3 separate regions of the Homo sapiens genome follow, and all the other regions are linked to region 2. Evidence: fine-mapped expression QTL. A gene starts in region 2. Each other region holds a variant in brackets. All regions are shown on one strand. Distances are between the middles of the regions. Region 1 overlaps CHLSN (cholesin). Region 2 holds the start of CHLSN (cholesin). Region 3 overlaps CHLSN (cholesin).

Evidence for each region.
Region 1: its variant is fine-mapped to the expression of CHLSN in whole blood (TOPMed, PIP above 0.99).
Region 3: its variant is fine-mapped to the expression of CHLSN in whole blood (TOPMed, PIP above 0.99).

The regions. Positions count from the first base shown.
Region 1 is chr7:995,553-1,002,542 of GRCh38, reverse strand. CHLSN (cholesin) reads left to right here. Exons shown (of 5, transcript NM_001318252.2): 4 at 1,992-2,073; 5 at 4,739-5,537. The coding sequence ends at 4,918. Among named protein-coding and RNA genes, the nearest start is that of CYP2W1, 16 kb to the right of the region's middle. RefSeq lists enhancers at 2,719-3,308, 4,765-5,305, 6,802-6,851. The variant G/A (reference allele first, on the strand shown) is at 3,552.
Region 2 is chr7:1,134,417-1,140,957 of GRCh38, reverse strand. It overlaps CHLSN (cholesin), which reads left to right and starts at 2,711. Exons shown (of 5, transcript NM_001318252.2): 1 at 2,711-3,643. RefSeq lists silencers at 2,302-2,441, 2,642-3,091, 3,102-3,151 and an enhancer at 2,482-2,581.
Region 3 is chr7:1,023,634-1,030,623 of GRCh38, reverse strand. The region is part of intron 2 of CHLSN (cholesin); the gene reads left to right. Among named protein-coding and RNA genes, the nearest start is that of MIR339, 4.1 kb to the right of the region's middle. RefSeq lists enhancers at 1,611-2,344, 2,345-3,079, 6,930-6,990 and silencers at 1,848-2,627, 2,658-2,867. The variant C/G (reference allele first, on the strand shown) is at 3,845.

The sequences.
Region 1 (6,990 bases), 140 kb after region 2:
GGCTCCACTCACCCACAGGACTCCCCACCCACAGGACTCCACTCACCCACAGGACTCCCCACCCACAGGACTCCACTCACCCACAGGACTCCACTCACCCACAGGACTCCCCACCCACAGGACTCCCCACCGGCAGGACTCCACTCACCCACAGGACTCCCCACCCACAGGACTCCATTCACCCACAGGACTCCCCACCCACAGGGCTCCACACCCACAGGATTCCCTACCCACAGGACTCCCCACCCACAGGATTCCACTCACCCACAGGGCTCCACTCACCCACAGGACTCCACTCACCCGCAGGACTCCACTCACCCGCAGGACTCCACTCACCCACAGGACTCCCCACCCACAGGACTCCCCACCTGCAGGACTCCACTCACCCACAGGACTCCACTCACCCACAGGGCTCCACTCACCCACAGGACTTCCCACCCACAGGACTCCACTCACCCAGAGGACTCCCCACCCACAGGACTCCCCACCCGCAGGACTCCACTAACCCACAGGACTCCCCACCCACAGGACTCCACTCACCCACAGGACTCCCCACCCACAGGACTCCACTCACCCACAGGACTCCACTCACCCACAGGACTCCCCACCCGCAGGACTCCCCACCCGCAGGACTCCCCACCCACAGGACTCCACTCACCCACAGGACTCCCCACCCACAGGACTCCACTCACCCACAGGACTCCCCACCCACAGGGCTCCACACCCACAGGACTCCCTACCCACAGGACTCCCCACCCACAGGACTCCACTCACCCGCAGGACTCCACTCACCCACAGGACTCCCCACCCACAGGACTCCACTAACCCACAGGACTCCCCACCCGCAGGACTCCCCACCCGCAGGACTCCACTCACCCACAGGACTCCACTCACCCACAGGACTCCCCACCCGCAGGACTCCCCACCGGCAGGACCCCCCACCCGCAGGACTCCACTCACCCACAGGACTCCCCACCCACAGGGCTCCACTCACCCACAGGACTCCCCACCCACAGGATTCCACTCACCCACAGGACTCCACTCACCCGCAGGACTCCACTCACCCACAGGACTCCCCACCCACAGGACTCCACTCACCCACAGGAATCCCCACCCACAGGACTCCACTCACCCACAGGACTCCCCACCCACAGGACTCCACTCACCCACAGGACTCCCCACCCACAGGGCTCCACACCCACAGGACTCCACTCACCCACATGGCAGTGGGGTCAGGCAAGCTGGGCAGCGCTCACAACAGGCACAGGGCCCTCCCCCGTGCTGAGCCTACAGTCTTCAGACCTGGGCTTGCACACTGATGGAGGCTTCTGGGCTCGGCTGCCCTGCCTGGCCCTGGAAACACGTATCTGGGAGGAGGTCTCTGGAGTAAACCCTGCCTGGCCCTGCCCTACCCACAGCGCCAGCTTCGCTCCATCCGCAGCTGCCTGATGTCCACAGGCCCTAGTGCAGGAGCGGGACGGGGGCGGGGTGGTTGTGGCCCTGGGGAGCGGCCCCTCTAGCAGCCGGGAGCTGCTCGTCCCCAGGCCCACTGGCCCCTTGTTGTGAGGGCCTGGGACTCAGGGTATTGTTCCTTACAGTCTTCCCATTTTCATGTAGAAAATACATCATCAATTACATCGCTCCCTTTCCTCCCAGAGAAACTCACTTCATCCTTCCCCCCCTGTAAAATCCGTGTGACCCATGGGGTGGGGGAGCCCACGGGGACTTGGGGTCAGTGGTGAGCCCCGGGGTGGCCAAGGTAAGAGTGGCGTCCACATGCTTCCTGGTCAGGCGGCAGCAGGGCGTGGGGTTGCGGCTCCTCGCCTCGGGCAGGGGAGGGGCTCCAAAAACCCTCTTCACATGAGGCCTTGGTGTGTAGTACCTGGTGGGGCTCCCTCTCCTAAGATGAGGCGTCCCCGATCTCTCAGGGCAGACAGCTGCCCGGGAGTCTTTTGCCCAGCACCCTGAGATGTTTGTCTTTCTTTCCCTAGATGGGCCCAAAAGCACAAGAACTGGAGGTTTCAGAAGACGAGGCAGACGTGGCTCCTGCTGCACATGTATGACAGTGACAAGGTGTGTGCACGGCGGGGCAGGCACGTCTCCTGGGGGCTGAGGTCTGTGCACGGCGGGGCAGGCACGTCCCCCCGGGGGCTGAGGTGTGTGCACGGCGGGGCAGGCACGTCTCCCGGGGGCTGAGGTGTGTGCACGGCGGGGCAGGCACGTCTCCCGGGGGCTGAGGTCTGTGCACGGCGGGGCAGGCACGTCTCCTGGGGGCTGAGGTCTGTGCACGGCGGGGCAGGCACGTCTCCTGTGCACACTGGGGCCCTGACAGCAGAAGCCACAGTCTGAAGGGGCCGCCCTCAGGGCCCCACTGCAGGGCAGGTCTCCCGGTGCCTTTGTTCTAAGAGATGAGCAGCGTTGCCTCCTCCAGGAGCCCTGCCGCCGGCCTTCAGGGCAGAAACCAACACGGGGTAACCTTAGGGAGGCCACCTGCACGTGTGCGTGTGACGTGTGTCTACACGTGCGTGTGTGCATGACGTGTGTCTACACGTGTGTGCGCGTGATGTGTGTCTACACATGTACGTGTGGGCAGCTGCCCTTTTCAGGGGCAGGATGTGAGATAGAGTTTCACAGGATGAAACGAGACAGAATTCTGAACTAAACCCGGCTGCTGGGCGGCGGGCTGGAGCTGCCCATGTCCTGTGAGGCTGGAGGAGCCCACGGTTCTGCTGAGCTGCATCCGGTGGGCAGTGCCTCCTGCCTCGCTGGCTCTCCTGCGCCCACGTTACTAGAGGCCAGGCTTTGCGTGCGCGCTGGGGGCAGGGGGCGGTTTTCTCCTGCCGTGCCTGTGTTTGCAGACTCTCAGAGCGGGGCAGGCCCACCAGCCCCACTCACAGCCCTGGGACATTCCAGGCATAGCCTGCAGCCACTTGCTTTCATTATTTTGTTGTTTTTGTTTTTTTGTGGGCGTTTTTTGAGACAGGGCCCCGCCCAGGCTGGAGTGCAGTGACACGACCACAGTTCACTGCAGCCTCGACCTCCTGGGCTCAAGCCACTCTCCCTCCTCAGAGTTAGAGGACATACACATTGCAAGCCCTATTGCAAGCCGATTGTAAGCCCTATTGCAAGCTCCGGTAATCGCGACACTGGGGCAGGCACAAGGGTGGAAGTAGAATTGACTGGAACAGCCTGGGAAGCCTGGAAACCCTCACGCCCGGCGCAGCTGATTCCAGCATGCGGGCCAAGCCTGTTCCATGTGGAGGAAACCTCTTCTTAACAGAGCCAGGGACAACTGGGTTTCCACGTTTTGTTTTGTTTTAACCAAAGTTTACGTGGTTTTATTTATATGTTACTATTACCAAAAGTAAACTTTATACAAAACTTTTTATACAGAAAAATAATCCTTGGTTAGGCAAATCCTTGGTTAGCCATTTATATGTGTGTATACACACACACACACACGCAAAGTTATCTTACACTATTGTAATTAAACATATTTACAAACACACAAATGTGCATTTTACTTATACATTTTTATTTCATATGTAACC[G/A]TACATATTTACGAACATGCCGATACTTAATGCACGCAGCCCCCAGCTTCAAACCATATGCAAAAATTAACTCAAAATGGATCAGAGACTTAAATTTAAAAGCTAAAACCAAAACTCTTAGATGAAAGCCTAAGAGTCCATTTCGTGCCCTTGGGTGAGGCAACAGTTTCTTAAATGTGACTCTAGAAGCACAAGCGACAAAGGAAAAAGTCGAGAAAGTGCCTTCATCAGGATCTAAGACTGTGTAGCCGGGCGTGGTGGCTCACGCCTGTAATCCCAGCACTTTGGGAGTCTGAGGCGGGTGGATCACTTGAGGTCAAGAGTTCGAGACCAGCCTGGCCAACATGGCAAAAACCCCGTCTCTACTAAAAATACAAAAATTAGCTAGGTGTGGTAATGCTTGCCTATAATCCCAGCTACTTGGGAGGCTGAGGCAGGAGAATTACTTGAACCTGGGAGGTGGAGATCGTGCCACTGCACTGCAGCCTGGACAACAGAGCAAGACCGGCTCAAAAAAAAAAAAAAAAAAAAAAAGAATCTAAGACTTTGCACTGCATACAGAACTAGCTGGAAAGTGAAATGGTTGCTACAGAATGGGAGACGTTTGCAAGTCCCACATGGAATTAGAACTCTGCTAACTCAATAATAAAAAGAGCCCAGTGTTGAAAGCCGCTGCCACAGGGACCTGAGGAAACGTGCCTGCAGAGCAGATTGTCAGGTGACTGGTGAGCCTGTGCAGAGGTGCCCCCACCACCAGCAGACAAGGGTCAGGCCACCAAGAGATGCCACCTGGCCACTGCCGCCCTGAGCAGAAAGGCGAGCGTGCCAAGTGCCGGCGCGTACTTGGCTTTTTGTTCTGAATGCACCTTTCATCACCGCCTACCCCTGTTTAATTTGTGTCGTATTTTCTCGTTTTTCTGAGGATTTTTACGATGTTTGTGAAATGTTCTCCCCACATGGCTTCTGTTTTACCCAGGTTAATTGAGTGTTTTGTCTGCCTCTAAACAGGCATTTCTTCTTCCAGTGTCTGGGGCAGGGTCTGTGGCCAGGCCGCCCACACCCTCGGGCCGCAGTGGGAGGACGGAAGCCTGAGGCCCGGGTGTCCTTGGCTGCAGCGTCTTGTCTCCTGCTGTTCAGCGGCCCCTCCCTGCCCCGCCCCTGACCAACTCGATCTCTTTCCCGTCCAGGTTCCCGATGAGCACTTCTCCACCCTGCTGGCCTACCTGGAGGGGCTGCAGGGCCGGGCCCGAGAGCTGACGGTGCAGAAGGCGGAAGCCCTGATGCGGGAGCTGGATGAGGAGGGCTCTGATCCCCCCCTGCCGGGGAGGGCCCAGCGCATCCGACAGGTGCTGCAGCTGCTCTCCTAGTGGGTTCAGCGCGGGGCGGGGCCGCTGCCCAGTGCAGGGCTGCCTCAGACCACACAGGGTGCAGCTCCTCCGGCGGTGGGGGCCGGGTTCACCAGCAGGGCAGCGGCTGAGCAAGGGCTTTCAGCTCCTCCGGTGGTGGGGGCCGGGATCACCAGCACCAGAGCCTCGCAAGGGCCCCTTCCCTCCTCCAGACCCTCCTTGGCCGGTGACGGCTGTGACAGTGATGGCAGGTTCAGTGCCTTCAGCGCAGAGCGTGGATGCTCTGGAATCACCCGGACCCCTGGCCTTGGAGGGACCCTCCAGCCCCAGGAATCTGCTTTGGAGGGAAATGTCTATTTTTCTACCGGGAATATTTTAGAGATTGGGGCATGCTGGCTCCTCCCGCCAGCTGCAAACCTGCACCTTCCGCCTGATTCCCGATCCCCCTGCGTGGGCCGCATTCCTGGTCCCCTGCCTGCGTCCATCGAGGGGCCTGGCTGTGGCCTGTTTTCCTTTGACCCCACACAGCGTCATTGCGGGTCATGGGGAGCCCCTGGTGGGAGCTTGTGGAGTCGGATCACGTACCTGTGCAGAAACCGCCTCTGTGGCTGCATTTGAAATAAAACCCGACCCAGCAGCAGCCGTGGGTCCTGCTCTGTGCGGTGCGTCCCCTGCCTGTGGACTGCGGAATTCGTGTCCCCCATGCCAGCGCACGCCAGGCTGAGACCCCGCCCTTGGTGGCCACCCCAGGATGGCATTGGGGGCGCTCTGTGTGTGGCGTTCCTGGCAGTGGGTGCTGGCTGATCGCTTGCGTTCAGGCCGGCCGTTTCCCAGCGCTGGCAGTGACTGACCCTGCCAGGAAACACACTTAGGCCGCACAGAATCAAGCCACACACTTCCTGTTCCCAGCAGCACGTGGTCCCTGCCCCCAAGTGATGTGAGGTGCCGCGGGGCACCGGGAAGGCCGTGGTGACCGCAGAGCTCTGGGCAGCTGCCGGGGAGGGCCGGGTGGCCATGGCGAGGAGGTCCGTGCCCCACTGTGAGGCCAAGTCTGTTCCAGGATGGGCCCCGGGGAGGGCTGAGGCCAGTGGCTCCGGTCTGGGCCTCCACAGAGCAGACACCCAGGTGCTGCTGCCCCGGGGCCGCCTCCTGCCCAGCCCAGGTTGGGGGTTTGTGCTGCCGTCTCAGTGCTCCCCCAACTGACGGTGGAGCAGAAAAGTAGCTGCAGCCGCCACCTGGCAGCCTTGGGACGCTGGCTCAGGCCCTGAGTGCCCCCTTGGGTGCCCCGCCCCCCAACAGAGCTCCTGAGGCTGAGGTCAGGCTGCCTGCCTTGGCTGCCACCAACGCACAGAGCTGCATGCAAGCCGGGAGGCGGGAGCACGGCCGGCCTCACCCTGTGAGAGCAGAGTCACAGGCTCCGGGCTGTTGTTGTGGGGAGGGCCTGGGGCTTCCCGTGGCCACTGCTGGCCTGGCTGGGCCTCCTCAGCCGTGGCCCTCGGGGCCTGCACCTCAGAGCGGTGACTGGCCTCACTGTGACCCACGGACGTCTACTGTGACTTCCTCCTTAGCTCCCTGAAGACACCCAGGGCTGGGCTAAGATGTGGTCTGGGCAGGTCTGGCTGACCACTCAGGCCATCTCTATGTGGACATCGAGACTCGGGGCCGGAGGAGACCCTAAGGACCGTGTCCCCAGGTCCTCTCTGCACCCACCAAGCTGTGGGAAGGAGATGAGGCTGTTTGCTCTTCCTTGGCCAGCATCCAGCCCCGTCCCCCAACTGTTGTGGCCAAAATTCTGACCACCCACGACACAGGGCCTGCTGTGTGCACCCCACTGGCCCAGGGCGGGCCTTGCCGGCGGCAGGCGAGGAGTCCAGCCCCTCCTGGTGTCGGTCAGGTGAACTCACAAACAGGAAGGCACGTTGCACAGCACGAACCTTCAGATCTGCCAGGCGGTGCCTGCGATCCGGCTGCTGGCAGCACAGCTTTGCAGAGAAGCTGCTGGGAAGGGTCCGTGTTCAGCCCAGCAGTCAGGGTGCTCAGTGGCCCCTATGCTGTGAGGCACCTTAAACAAACAGCAGAGGGAGACCCGCAAA
Region 2 (6,541 bases):
CTCCCTGCCACAGCCCTGGGATCAGCCATTTCTCCCAGGAGCCCTGGTCCGTATTCATGGGGGATGGTATTTAGGAGCAGTGTTCTGGGTGCCAGGAGTGCTCAGTGCCACTGGGATGTCATTGCATCCAAGTCCTTTCAGCATTTCTGTATTAGTCAGTATTCACACTGCTATTCAGACATACCTGAGACTGGTAATTTATAAATAAAAAGAAGTTGAATGGACTCACAGTTCCACATGGCTGGGGAGGCCTCTCAGTCTTGGCGGAAGGCAAAAGGCACATCTTACATGGCAACAGATGAGAGAAAATGAGAACCAAGCAAAAGGGGTTTCCCCTTATCAAACCATCAGATCTCATGAGACTTACTCACTACCAAGAGAACAGTATGGGGGAAACTGCCCCCATGATTCAATTATGTCCCACCAGGTCCCTCCCACAATGCATGGGAATTATGGGAGATACAATTCAAGATGAGATTTGGGTGGGGACACAGCCAAACCATATCAATTTCCAAAAATAAAAATGAAAAAAAATTATTTTCCTTTTTTCCTTTTTTTTTTTCACCCAGGCTGGAGTGCAGTGGTGTGATCATAGTTCACTGCAGCCTCCATCTTCCAGGCTCAAGCAATCCTTCCACCTCAGCCTCCTAAGTAGCTGGGACTATATGCGTGCACCACCACACCCAGCTAATTTTCTATTTTTATTTTTGTAGACATGAGGTCTTACTGTTTGCCCAGGCTGGTCTTGAACTCCTGGTGTCCATCCATCCTCCTGACTCAGCCTCCCAAAGAGCTGGGATTACAGGCCTGAGTCACTGCACCTGGCCATGATTCACTTTTTTTTTTTTTTTTTTTTTGAGCTGGAGTCTTGCTCTGTCGCCCAGGCTGGAGTGCAGTGGCGCGGTCTCAGCTCATTGCAACCTCTGCCTCCCGGGTTCAATAGGTTCTGATGCCTCAGCCTCCTGAGTAGCTGGGATTATAGGTACATGCCACCATGCCTGGCTAATTTTTGTATTTTTAGTAGAGATGGAGTTTTGCCACGTTGGCCAGGCTGGTGTTGAACTCCTGACTTCAAGTGATCCATCCACCTCAGCCTCCCAAAGTGCTGGGATTACAGGTGTGAGCCACCGCACCCGGCCGACTTCTAATGAACAGAATATGGCAAAAGCCTAGGGAAGTCACTTCTGAGATTAGGGTGCAAGGAGACTGTGATGTGCGTCTTGTGTGTGCCTCCTCTTGTGTGTGCTTGCACCGTCTAAGGCAAGCCAGCTGCAGTGTTGTGAGCTTCCTTGTGGTAAGGCCCATGTACCAAGGAACTGAGGGTGGCCTTTGGGCAGCAGCCAGCAAGGCTGAGGCCCTTCTCTAATGACCTTGGAGGACTGAGTCCTTACAATATCCGTGTGTGTGAGCTTGGGAGTGGATCATTCCAGATAAGCTTTCCGATGAAACCACAACCCTGGGGGGACACCTTGACCACAACTTGGTGAACCCTTGAGGCAAAGGCACAGAGCTTAGCCACGCCCACTTTCCTGACCGCGGATACCATGAAAAAATAAATGTTCTTTTAGGCTGCTAAATGTTGGGTTAATTTGTTATGCAGAAAAAGGAACCAAATACAATCTTCTACCAGTAAGGAAGAGTGCACCTTCTTTGCTTGTCACCTTTGGATTCCTGAGGCAACGTACATCATACTTGATACGGCTGCCAAGCACTTAACTTACTGGGTGACTTGAAAGCATGCTTTTTTTTCTTTTTTTTTTTTAGACGGGGTCTGGCTCTGTTGCCCAGGCTGGAGTGCAGTGCCTTGATCATAGCTCACTGCAGCCTCCATCTCCCAGGCTCCAGCGATCCTCCCACCTCAGCGTCCAGAGTATCAGGAACTACAGGCACGTGCCACCATACCCGGCTAATTTTTATTTTTTTAATTTATTTTTTATTTTTTAAAACAGAGTCTCATTCTGTCGCCCAGGCTGGAGTGCAGTGGCACGATCTCGGCTCACTGCAACCTCCACCTCCCGGGCTTAAACGATTTTCCTGCCTCAGCCTCCCGAGTAGCTGGGATTACAGGCACCTGCCACCACGCCTGGCTAATTTTTGTATTTTTAGCAGAGACGGGGTTACGGGGTTTCGTCATGTTGGCCAGGCGGGTCTCGAACTCCTGAGCTCAAGCGATCCGCCCGCCTGGGCCTCCCAAAATGCTGGGATCACAGGCGTGAGTCACCGCTCCCGGACACAAGCATTATTATAACACTACCCACCCTGTGTATTTTTTAGCACCTATCCTGATTTTTTAAATTCAGCACGAAGTTTAAGTCCTAGCCCTGTTGATCCCAATAGCCGTAGCTCATCCATTTCGACTCCGAGCCGAGCTCCATACCCTGGACCCTCGGCGGAGGCCCCACCCCGGGACGCCAGCCCGGCCGGGGCAGCTTGCACCCCAGACCCCCAAGCCCTGCGGGGCCCAAACCTAGTCATCTGCACTTGTTCTGGGCAGGGCGGGTTGCCTTGGCAACCAGCTCCTCTCCAAGCAACTCTAGGCCTCTAGAGATGGCGTCAGTAGCCCGCGCCCGGTCCTGGAACCGCCCCCCGTGCTGCCGCCGCTTGCCATTAGCCGGCGGAGAGACGGACGCAGACCTCGTCCAATGGGAGGCTCCGCACTCCTGAAGGCGGGACTAACGCTTACCTGGGGCGCGGGTCCCTGCCGGAAGGCGGCGTCCGCGACGCAGCTGTTCACGCTTAGGTGGGCGACGTGGGCGCAGGTGGGCGCAGGTAGGCGCGTGGGGCGGCGGCGGGGTGGCCGGCGGGTCAGGGCGCCAGGAGACCCAGAGCCCCGGGGCGGGCTCCCGCGGGGCTCCGCCCCCTCCACGTGGGTGCGCGGAGGCCCGGCGCGGCGCGACCGGGCGGCGGCCCTGGGGTCCGCGGTGCTGGGGAGGCTGGTGCGGCCGGTGCGGCCGGTGCGTCCCGGCGCGGGCTCCGACACCCGCACCCGCCTCTGGGTTAACTCAGCGCGGGCGAGTGGAAGGGACTCAGCTGGCTCCTAGGTTTCAGGCCGTCAGGGCTTGCAGTGGCTCTGGTTTCATTGTCTTTCTCTGAAGACGCCCTGATTGCCCTCCGAGGCTTTCAGCTCCCACTTTCTCTTTTTCAATTTTTGAGGCAGTGTCTCGCTGTGCCACCCAGGCTGGAGTGCAATGGCGTGATCATAGCTCACTGCAGCCTCCACCTCCTGGGCTCAAGCCGTCCTCCCGCCTCATCCTCCCAAGTAGCTGGGACCACATGCGCGCGCCACCACACCCGGATAATTTTTAAAAATGTTTTTTGTAGAAATGGGGTCTCACCATGTTACCCAGGCTGGTCTCGAATTCTTGGGCTCAAGCGATGGATCCTCCTGCCTCGGCCTCCCAAAGTGCTGGGATTACAGGAGTGAGCCAACGCGCTTGGCCTCACTTTCCATCATAAGCATGCTTTCCGTTTCCTTCCTTCCGTCATTCATTCATTCATTTTTAAAAAACGTTCATTGGGTTCCTCCTGCACTGTTCGGGGCATTGGGCTACAGCTGTCAACAAGTGGAGACAAGTCTGTGATCTAGTGAACTTCCATTCTGGAGGGGAGAGACAGATGAACAAGGTGCACAGAGCAGGTGATGGTAAGTGCCATGGAGAAGATGAGAACAGGGGTTTTGAGAATGGAAAGGAAGCAGGAGGAGGAGTGAGGCACCAGAACATTCCAGGTCGAGGAAACAGCAGGTGCAGGGGAAACAGCAGGGAGCCCAGTGTGGCTGCAGCCAATTTGGGAACAGAGAGAGAAAGAGGAGGTGAGTTCCCAGAGATGCGAGGAGGGGCCAGGGCAGTCGTGTGGACCTTACCAAGTGGCAAGGACCTTGACTTTCCCTCCAAGTGGAAGGGGACAGCTTGGGAAGTTTTTTGAGTGGAGGTGACACACCATCTGATTTAGGAGTTTAAAAGCCATCGTGAGAGGTGGTGGCTTGGACTGGGTACCTATGGGATCTTAAGGGAGTCACATTCTGGGTGTATTTCAGTGGTAAACCAACAGGAGTTTGTGGTGGGTTGGACGAGTATGTGAGAAAGAGAGGATTTATGGATGGACCAAGGTTTTAAGCTTGAGCTACTATGTGAACCTCATCAGATGGATGTTTATGGAGAGGATGAACACTAGGAAGCTCAGGTTTGTGGAGGGTGATCAGGGGTATTGATTACGAATTCTTAAGCTTGAGATGATATATGTGTAGATGATATATATAAGTACATATATATGGTTATATATATAGTTATATATATACACAGTTTATACACACATCCGCATATATATATTTATTTTTATATATTTATATATATTTATATATGTTTATATATGTTTATATATGTTTATGTTTATATGTTTATATATGTTTATATATGTTCATATATATGTTTATATATATTTATATATGTTTATATATATTTATATGTTTATATATGTTTATATATTTATATATGTTTATATATGTTTATATATATTTATATATATGTTTATATATATTTATATATATGTTTATATATATTTATATATATGTTTATATATTTATATATATTTATATATATGTTTATATATATTTATATGTTTATATATTTATATATTTATGTTTATATATATTTATATATGTTTATATATATTTATATATATTTTATATATTTATATATGTTTATATATATTTATATATATTTTATATATTTATATATGTTTATATATATTTATATATTTGTGTATATATTTATAATTATGTATATTTATACATATTTATGTATATATATTTATATATTTATGTATATATTTATATATATTTATGTATATATATTTATATACACATTTATATAAATTTATATATACTTATATTTATATATATTTATATATACTTATATATTTATACATATATTTATATATACATATATATTTTATATATATATTTATATATGCTTATATATTTATATATACTTATATATATTTATATATATTTATATATACTTATATATTTATATATACTTATATATATTTTTATATATACTTATATATTTATATATTCATATATATTTTTATATATTTATATAAATACATATTTATGTAAATATATTTATATATTTATTTTATATAAATAAATAAATAAATTGTGTATATATATATATATATATATTTCTTTTTGAGGTGGAGTCTCACTCTGTTGTCCAGGCTGGAGTGCAGTGGCGCGATCTCGGCTCACTGCAACCTCCACCTCGTATTCAAACGATTCTCCTGCCTCAGCCTCCCGAGTAGCTGGGTTTACAGGCAGGTGCCAGCACACCCAGCTAATTTTTGTGTTTTCAGTAAAGATGGGGTTTCACCATGTTAGCCAGGCTGGTCTCAAACTCCTGACCTCAAGTGATCTCCCCGCCTCGGCCTCCCAAAGTGCTGGGATTACAGGCGTGAGCCACCGTGCCCGGCCATACACATACATATATATACACACATGTAGATATATGTGTATAAACAGTGTAAACAGAGGTCAGGAGTTCAAGTATATATATGTGTATATATGTCTAGGTACACATATATGACCATGTATATATATATAACTATATGTATATACATACAACTATAGCTATATATATACACAGTTGAGTTGGCGTGTAGTTGAAGGAGAGGGTTAATAAGAGACTGTAAAGAGAGGAAACAAAGTCATCAGCGTCTAGTTGGTATTTGAAGCCACATGACTGAATGGGATCACGAGGGAGTGAGGAGGCTGAGCACTAAGCCTGGGTCCTTCAGTGTTCAAGGACACGGCGATTAAGAGGTGGGAGCAAAAGCAGAAGTTCTGCTGTCTGTGCTGGATGCCAAGTGAAAAATGCCTGTCAAGAGAGAAGGAAGGATCAACAGTCCAACGCTGTTAGGTCAAATAAGTTGCATACTGAGAGTTGGCAATGGGATTTAGCCACGTGGGTGTCATTGTGGTAGGGTGTTTGGGGCAAAAGCCTGATGGGATGGGGGAAGGAAAGGAGTCAGAGACAGGGCAGGTAGATGACTCTTTATGTATTTATTTATTTATTTATTTTTGAGAAGGAGTCTCACTCTGTAGCCCAGGCTGGAGTGCAGTGGTGCGATCTCGGCTCACTGCAAGCTCCGCCTCCCAGGTTCACATCATTCTCCTGCCTCAGCCTCCCGAGTAGCTGAGTAGCTGGGACTACAGGCACCCGCCACTATGCCCAGCTAATTTTTTGTATTTTTTAGTAGAGACGGGGTTTCACCATGTTAGCCAGGATGGTCTCGATCTCCTGACCTTGTGATCTGCCTGTCTCGGCCTCCCAAAGTGCTGGGATTATAGGCGTGAGCCACCGCACCCGGCCTATTTATTTATTTATTTAGAGACACAGTGTCACTCTGTTACCCATGCTGGAGTGCAGTGGCGCGATCTCGGCTCACTGTAATCTCCATAGTTTCAAGTGATTCTCCTGCCTCAGCCTCCCGAGTAGCTGGGACTACAGGCACACGCCACCACACCTGGCTAATTTTTGTA
Region 3 (6,990 bases), 110 kb after region 2:
CAGGTGGGTCACTGGGCAGGACCTAGGAAGGCATAGCAGCTGGTATGTGTCCACCTTTGCTGGGCTTGGTTCCCCCTCTGTGAAGTGCAAAGAGCAGGGTAGCTGGAAGCGTGAGATGGAGTGGAGTGAAGCCCCTGGGTCCTCAGCCGGCACCACGTCCCCATCCCTGTGGGGCTAGTGGCCCAGCCCGGGGGACTGCACCCCACTGCCAGGCCAGCTTCTCCCGCTCCTGCTCTTGTCCTTGTCTCCCAAAGCAGCCCAGAGCCACCAGCACAGAACTACGGGGAGAAGAAACCTGGTCCCCGGGCTCAGGTGTGGAGGCGGGTGGCTGTGCGAGTTGGTGCGTTGGTGAAGACGGCATATGAGCAGGATTGGCGCGTTTATGGAGGTGGGTGGATGCGTGGGTCGTTGCGTTCGGGAAGACAGGTGGATGCGCGGAGTTGGCGCGTTCATGGAGGCAGGTGACTGTGTGGGCTGGCGCATTCATGCTGGGGACACACTGGGGAGTCAGCACACAAGGCCACTGGGGCTCAGAAGGCCCAGAATTGAGTCCCTCCCATGAAACCGGTGACTGAGCACACACTTCCTTCTCTGAAAGCGGGGTGCGGACACCAGTGGCAGAGACACTAAATCGGAAGCACTGCTGCATAGCCGCTGCAGGCAGTGGGCAGGACATCCCTTCCTGGCCTCCTCGTGTCCACCAGCTCCAGGAGGCCTCCAGTCCACCCTTGCCTGCCCCGCTGCCACCACAGAGCAGGCCTCTGCATGGGAACAGGCCTGGAGATGGTGAAACAGCTAGGAGGAAAACAGCCAGCCCCAGGCCTGACTCCGGCCTTGCAGATCCTTATTCAGCGGGGGACTGGGGTGCCCACACCATCTCCCCAGGCAGGGGTGGCCTCCAGAGCAGGGCCCCGCGACCAGAGCTCAGTGTGTCCTGGACCCTGACGCCTTGAGAGGGAGTCTAAGCCTCTCCTCGCCCTGGAACCGGCCCAGCCTCCGGGCTCACTGTGCTCTGGGTGGCCAGTGCGGCTCCCTCGCACCATAAAATTGATCTGCAAGGCAGGCACCGTGGTGCATGCTTGTAATCCCAGTCAGTGCTTTAGGAGGCCAAGGCAGGAGAATCACATGAGTCCAGGAGTTCCAGCCTCCTATGCCAGGCAACATAGTGAGACCCCATCTCTCCAAAAATTAAAAATTAGGCTGGGCATGGTGGCGCACCTGTAATCCCCGTACTTTGGGAGGCCGAGGCAGGAAGATCACTTGGGCCCAGGAGTTCGTGAACAGCCTGGGCAACGTAGTGAGACCCTGTCTCTACAAAAAATTTAAAAATTAGCTGGACACAGTGGTGCACTCCTGTGGTCCCAGCTACTCGGAAGGCCAAGGTGGGAAAATCACTTGAGCCCAGGAAGTTAAGGCTGCAGTGAGCTACAATGGTGCCACTGCACTCTGGCCTGGGCGACAGAGCAAGACCCTATCTCCAAAAACAAACAAGCAAAAAAACTGATCTGCAGTCTTAGTCCCAGGGCAGGGAACTCACAAGCCAGAAGAGATCTAGACGCCCTCTGTGTGGTGAGGAAAAGGCTGCGTGACTCATCCACGTATTCAGCCAGCCGGTATTGAGCACCTCCCCTTTGCTGGACACGTGGATGCCATGGGAGGGCTAGGCCTCTGCCTGCAGGGCCTGGGCAGGGGAGATGGGGGCAGACTGGGGGAGATGGGGGGACATGGAGTCAGACTGGGGAGAGATGGGGCAGATTGGGGAGATGGCAGACTGGGAAGATGGGGGTAGACTGGAGGAGATGGGGGCCATGGAGTCAGATTGGGGGAGCGATAGGGACAGATGGCGGCAGACTAGGGGAGATGGGGACAGACTGGGGGAGATGGGTCTATGGGGGCAGATTGGGGGAGATGAGAGGATAATGGAGGCAGATGGGGGAGATGAGGGAAGTAGGGGGACGATAGGGGCTGGGTGGGGGCGGTCAGAGGCAAGTACGTGCAGCTGGCAGGGGCCCTGCGCGGGCGGGGGTGCGCCCTCCCCGCAGTTCGCGCAGGTGGACCGGAGACCCGGGCGGCCAGAGAGCCTCGTCGGAGGAGCAGTGGGGGCTGCAGCAGGGTCCACCCCCGCCTTCTCAGCGCCGAGGCCCCGCCCCGGCTCTCCCACCCCCGCGCCGAGGTCCAGTCCCCGCAGGCGCGCTGGCGTCACGGTCCAGCCGGCTGGATCTGGTTCCAGCCGCGCCGGGCCGGCCGGGCATGCGCAGTGTGGAGGCGCTGAGGCTGCTGGAGGCGCGGGCCGGGCGGTGCGCACTGCGGGCGCATCCCTGCCCCGGCGCCGTCCGTGCCCGCGGGACCTGACAGCCGGGTCAGAGGTCAGTGCGCGGGGCCAGGGCCCGCATTCGGGCTGCAGGGAGGGGATGGGAGGGGCCCTGCCCCAGCCCCGCCCCGCGGCGACAGGTGGGCGCTCCCGTGGGAGGCCGTGGCGTCCAGACGCTGCTGCGGGCCCCGCTCCGCCCTGCAGACCCCGGGCCGGCCGAGCCGCGCTTCTCGGGGCTCCGCTGCGCGCCGGTCCCCGAGCAGGCCCTGGACGGTCCCGCGCCCTCCTCCCACTTACTCTCCTGGGGGCGCAGGGCCGGGCCGCGGGTGGCAGGGTGGGGGTCCAGGCCCTGCAGGCACTGCGAGCCCTCGAGCGGCCCCGCAACCGGCCAGGCTCCCCTGCGCTGTGGGGGCGGACCGGGCCCCCAGCCGCGATGCAGCAGCCCCCGGGGGAGACACGAGCTCTGAGGACCCTGGGTGGGCTGGAGTCGTCGGCCGCCGCGTGACCCTTGAGAGGGCCTGTGTCGCCCGCAGCGCCGCCTCGCCCCTCCCTGTGCCGGGGTAGAGGACCCCGTCGGGCGCTCGGAAGCCAGGGGCTTTCTTGCCTGAGGCAAGGCGGCCCCCACTGGCGCGGTGGGTGCTAGTGCGAAGCTGTGTCAACTAAAGCAAAGACTCATGATGAAAACAATTGGGATAGCTTCACTCGGGAGCCTTCCTGAGGACGGCGGAGCAGGCCGGCAGCTCCTTCAAGAGGCTCTGCCGCTGCTGCGTCGGGGCTCAGCCGGGTTTGGGTTGGAGAGCGCAGAGGTGCTTGGAGTAGGTCTTTTATCTTCTGAGGAGGCGGTGGCCCGGGCAGGTGGCGGCCCCGTGCTGGTCCTGCGCTGTGTCCTCGGAGCGTCCTCAGCTGCTGCGCGCACAGCCGGGGGCCGTGGACCAGGCGTCCGCACGGACACGCGAACCGGGCTGCCTAGCCTGCTGCTGGGCCTCACGGCTGCAGAGACGGCGGGAATGGTGACCGTTGCTTCAGAGTCCTTTGCTTATGAGTAACTCACCGAATTGACAGTGATTTTTATGAATTCGTTGTGTTCACTGAGGAGTTGTGGCAAAGTGAGAAAACCTAACCCGTACTTAGTTCCCAGATGTGAGTGTTTTAAACTATGTGTAACAACTAACAAAATTGACATGATGATACACTTCACGGACATTTAATTTTGATCCTGCCATTTCCTCATTTTAGAGGCGGTAACATGTTCTGGTTTTTTTCTCGTTGCTCAAACATCTTCCAGGCTCCTGCACGGCGGGTGCTGTGTCTCCGGGCCCAGGTGACCTCGGGGTGAGAAGGAAGGGGCCTCTGAGATGAGAACATAGTTTTGCTGTTTTCAGTTTATACTCAAAGCCCTGCAGTTTCCTGACAGCACAGAGCACACCTGTCACGCGAGCAGGATGAAGCCCAGAGGCTGCCTGGTGAAGTGGGCGGCGCGCTGGAAAATCCACGTAGCTTTGTTCCCTCCACGGGGAGCGTGCAAGGCCCTCT[C/G]GAGCACTACGGGAGCCTCGCCTTCTGCACAGACTTCGGAGCCAGGTGCTGGAGCGGCAGCAACTGAGGGGCGTGGATGTCTTTGCATGGTTCCCATACGTTTTTTAAACGTTAATAATGTGATTTTCAGTAAAGTGGCAGGATCAGCATTGAAGAATGGGGAGCAACTGTGAGCCGATTTCCTGCGAGTGGTTGAGAAGCAGGCTTTGTGTGGTTGGCCGTCCTTGTGCTTAGCGGCTGCTCCTGCCGGAGCTGCCTGCCTGTCTTAGAAACAACGCCGCCTCCGACTGCTAGTTAGCGGTGGCTTCCACAGGTGAAGCCCAGGCAGGTTAGTGTTCTCACAGCTAGGAAGGACACGGGCCTGGCAGGGAGCTGCAGCACAGCCTCTGTCGACACAGAAGCACTGCCGTGCGAACCCTTGCCTCCCGGGACAGCTGTTGCGCGCCCAGCAGCTGGAGCGCTGGCTCTGCGAGGGCTCTTCAGCAATGCCAGGTGCAGCTGGGCTCCACCCTCAACTGGTCCAATAGTAGCGAAAGAAACGAGGAGTGTCGTGAATCGTTAGACAGCGTCCATATGCCTAAGTTCAAATTGGAGCCGCCCAGCCCTACCTGTGGATACAAAGCTGCCGTTCAGTGGGGAGCTGGAGCCGAGGGGCCTATGTGACACCCCTGCATGTGGATGAAAATCACCCAGAGGCCCTGCCAACATTCTGGGAGGTGGCAAGGGGGCAGGGCCTCTGGGATCTGGGGTCACGAGTTCCAGGAGGCCTGCTTCTGCTTCTGCCCAGCAGTTCACTCTTCCCTCCACTGCAGCTGAAGCTTGAGCTGCTGCGGGGCCCACCTGGCCGGAGGCAGAAGGGAGCCCTCCGTCCCAGGCAGCGTCCTGGTGGGTGTCTGTCCTGTGCCAGACACTGGCCACAGAGGCTGAGAAAGGAGAGGACCCCAGCCTGCCTCTGGAGGCCCAGGGGAGGCAGTGAAGGGCCCAAGGCTGGTGATGCAGGAGTTTCCAGAGCGCAGGGAAATACAGAGCAAGAAACGCCAGCCCTCAGCTCCACTGGGGAGCCACGCAACCTCTACCGGTGCTGAGGGGTTACAAAGCTCTGTTACCAGCCCCATTCCTCCTGGATGGGCGAGGTCGGTCCGTATCACACCCCCAACCTCTTGTGCTCTGCGACCTCAGAATACACGGAGCTGTGTCCACAGGCCTCAGCGGCTGTGAGCCCCTCGCCTACACTGGGGGGTCCTCAGCTGACACCTGAGCCAGTGTCCTGTGCCCCAGTGGTGCCAGGGCAGAGTCCCCCTCCCTGACCTGACTTGTGCACCTCGTCACCCACCGCCAGCAGTGTCCCCCCACAACAGGCTTGCTCAGTACAGCACCCAACCCAAGTCCCCAGCACCCACACCCCAGTGAGTTTCCTGTGCCCTATAGGCTCAGCTGCTTCTCGTCCTCCCCCCACTTGGGATCCTTGGAACAGGGAGTGGTTCTTATTTAGGTCCCTGAGGTACCAAGCACAGGCTTTGCTCTTAGCAGCCGCCACTCCAGTGATGAAGCCGTTAGCAGACTGGCCTCTGCAGAGCTCTGCGGGGAGGTGCCTGGCTTCTCCGGCCTCCACCCTGGCCCAGAGCTGCCTCCTGAGCAGCGGATCCCAACCTGCCTGCCCCTGGGGCTGGGTCTCCAGCAGTCAGGACTGAGTTGTTGCTAGCTGCTGACAGGTGTGGGGCGAAGGGGGCGCATTTGCCGCATGTCCCCATTGGCAGCATCTCCACGCCTTCCCTTGTGACACCTCCAACCAGAATAGAGCAGGTATGTGGGAGCCCGCACCTGCTCCCCCAGCGCCCCGGGGTCGTCTTCTGCCTGCTCCTTCTGTCCTCCACACTGAAGAGTGTGCTCCAGCTGGGGATGGGCATGTGTGACGCTGGGGAATGGATACCTGTGAAATGGTGGAGTGTGCATCAAGTCTAAATAGCCGCTCGCAGGATCTGGGGGCTTTTTGTTTTCAGAAACCTGATCTGATCTTTATAAAAAGTGCTCCCCCACTCAGTCAGCCTGGGTGTCCCTCCCGTCCAGGCCAGCAGCGCTGTCTGGCTCGGCAAGGAGGGGCTGAAACTGGAGAGCCCCTGGGAAGGCTCTTGTGGGCCAGGTGGCAGCGGGGAGGGTGGCTCTTGTTCCCCGCCCTCATCCTAGCGTTCAGCAGACTGCCCCACACCACAGGTTTCCATTTTCACCCTTGGGTTAAGAGAAAAGCAGAAATAAAAAGTTTCTAATGTTGCTTGCGAAATTCAGCACTGGCCACCAAAGGCACCTGGGGCTTCTGCGTCTCTCTTGTCCCCTGGGGCTCCTGCGTCTCTCCTGTCCCATGGGTCCGTTTCTTGCTGTTTATTGCAACCCGCCTACATCGTTGGTGTGTGCAGCTGAACTCAGGCTGTTTAGGAAGCCCACGGGCAGGGCTCTGTGGGGCCCATTCCTGGTCCCACGTCTCTGGCAAGGGCTCCTCTTGAGCTGAGGCTTCTGAGCTCCTGCAGGCGGGAGTAGGGAGGCAGGTCCCACTGTCAGCCAAGCTGCAGGGTTTTTAGGAAGAAAGTGGGGGCTGTGCACCGTGGGCTCACACCTATAATCCCAGCACTTTGAGGCTGGCCGGAAGGATCGCTGTGGCCCAGGAGTTTGAAAACTCATGCCTATAATCCCAGCACTTTGGGAGGCCGGCAAGGAGGATCACTTTAGCTCAGGAGTGTGAGAGCAGCCTTGGTCCTATCTCTATAAAAAATTTAAAAACTGGCCAGGCATGGTGGCACATGCCTATAGTCCTGGTTGCTTGGGAGGCTGAGGTGGGAGGATTGCTTGAGCCCAGGAGGTCGAGGCTGCAGTAAACTGTGATGGTGCCGCTGCAGTCCAGCCTGGGCCACAGAGCAAGACCGTGTATCAAAAGGAAAGGGCTGCTGTGGAAGGGCCTCCAGTCCCCTGGCCTGGGCTGCAGGGGCCGCTGCTCCAGCCCTGCCTTCTACATGTGCCGAGATGTGAGCAGTCACCCCTGGAGATCCTCACCCCTTCTCTGTAGAACGAGGAGTTGGGCTGCCAGGGATTGGGGTCTGGGCGCGTTGCTGGTGTGTGTGTGTGTGTGTGTGTGTGTGTGTGTGTGTGTGTGTGTG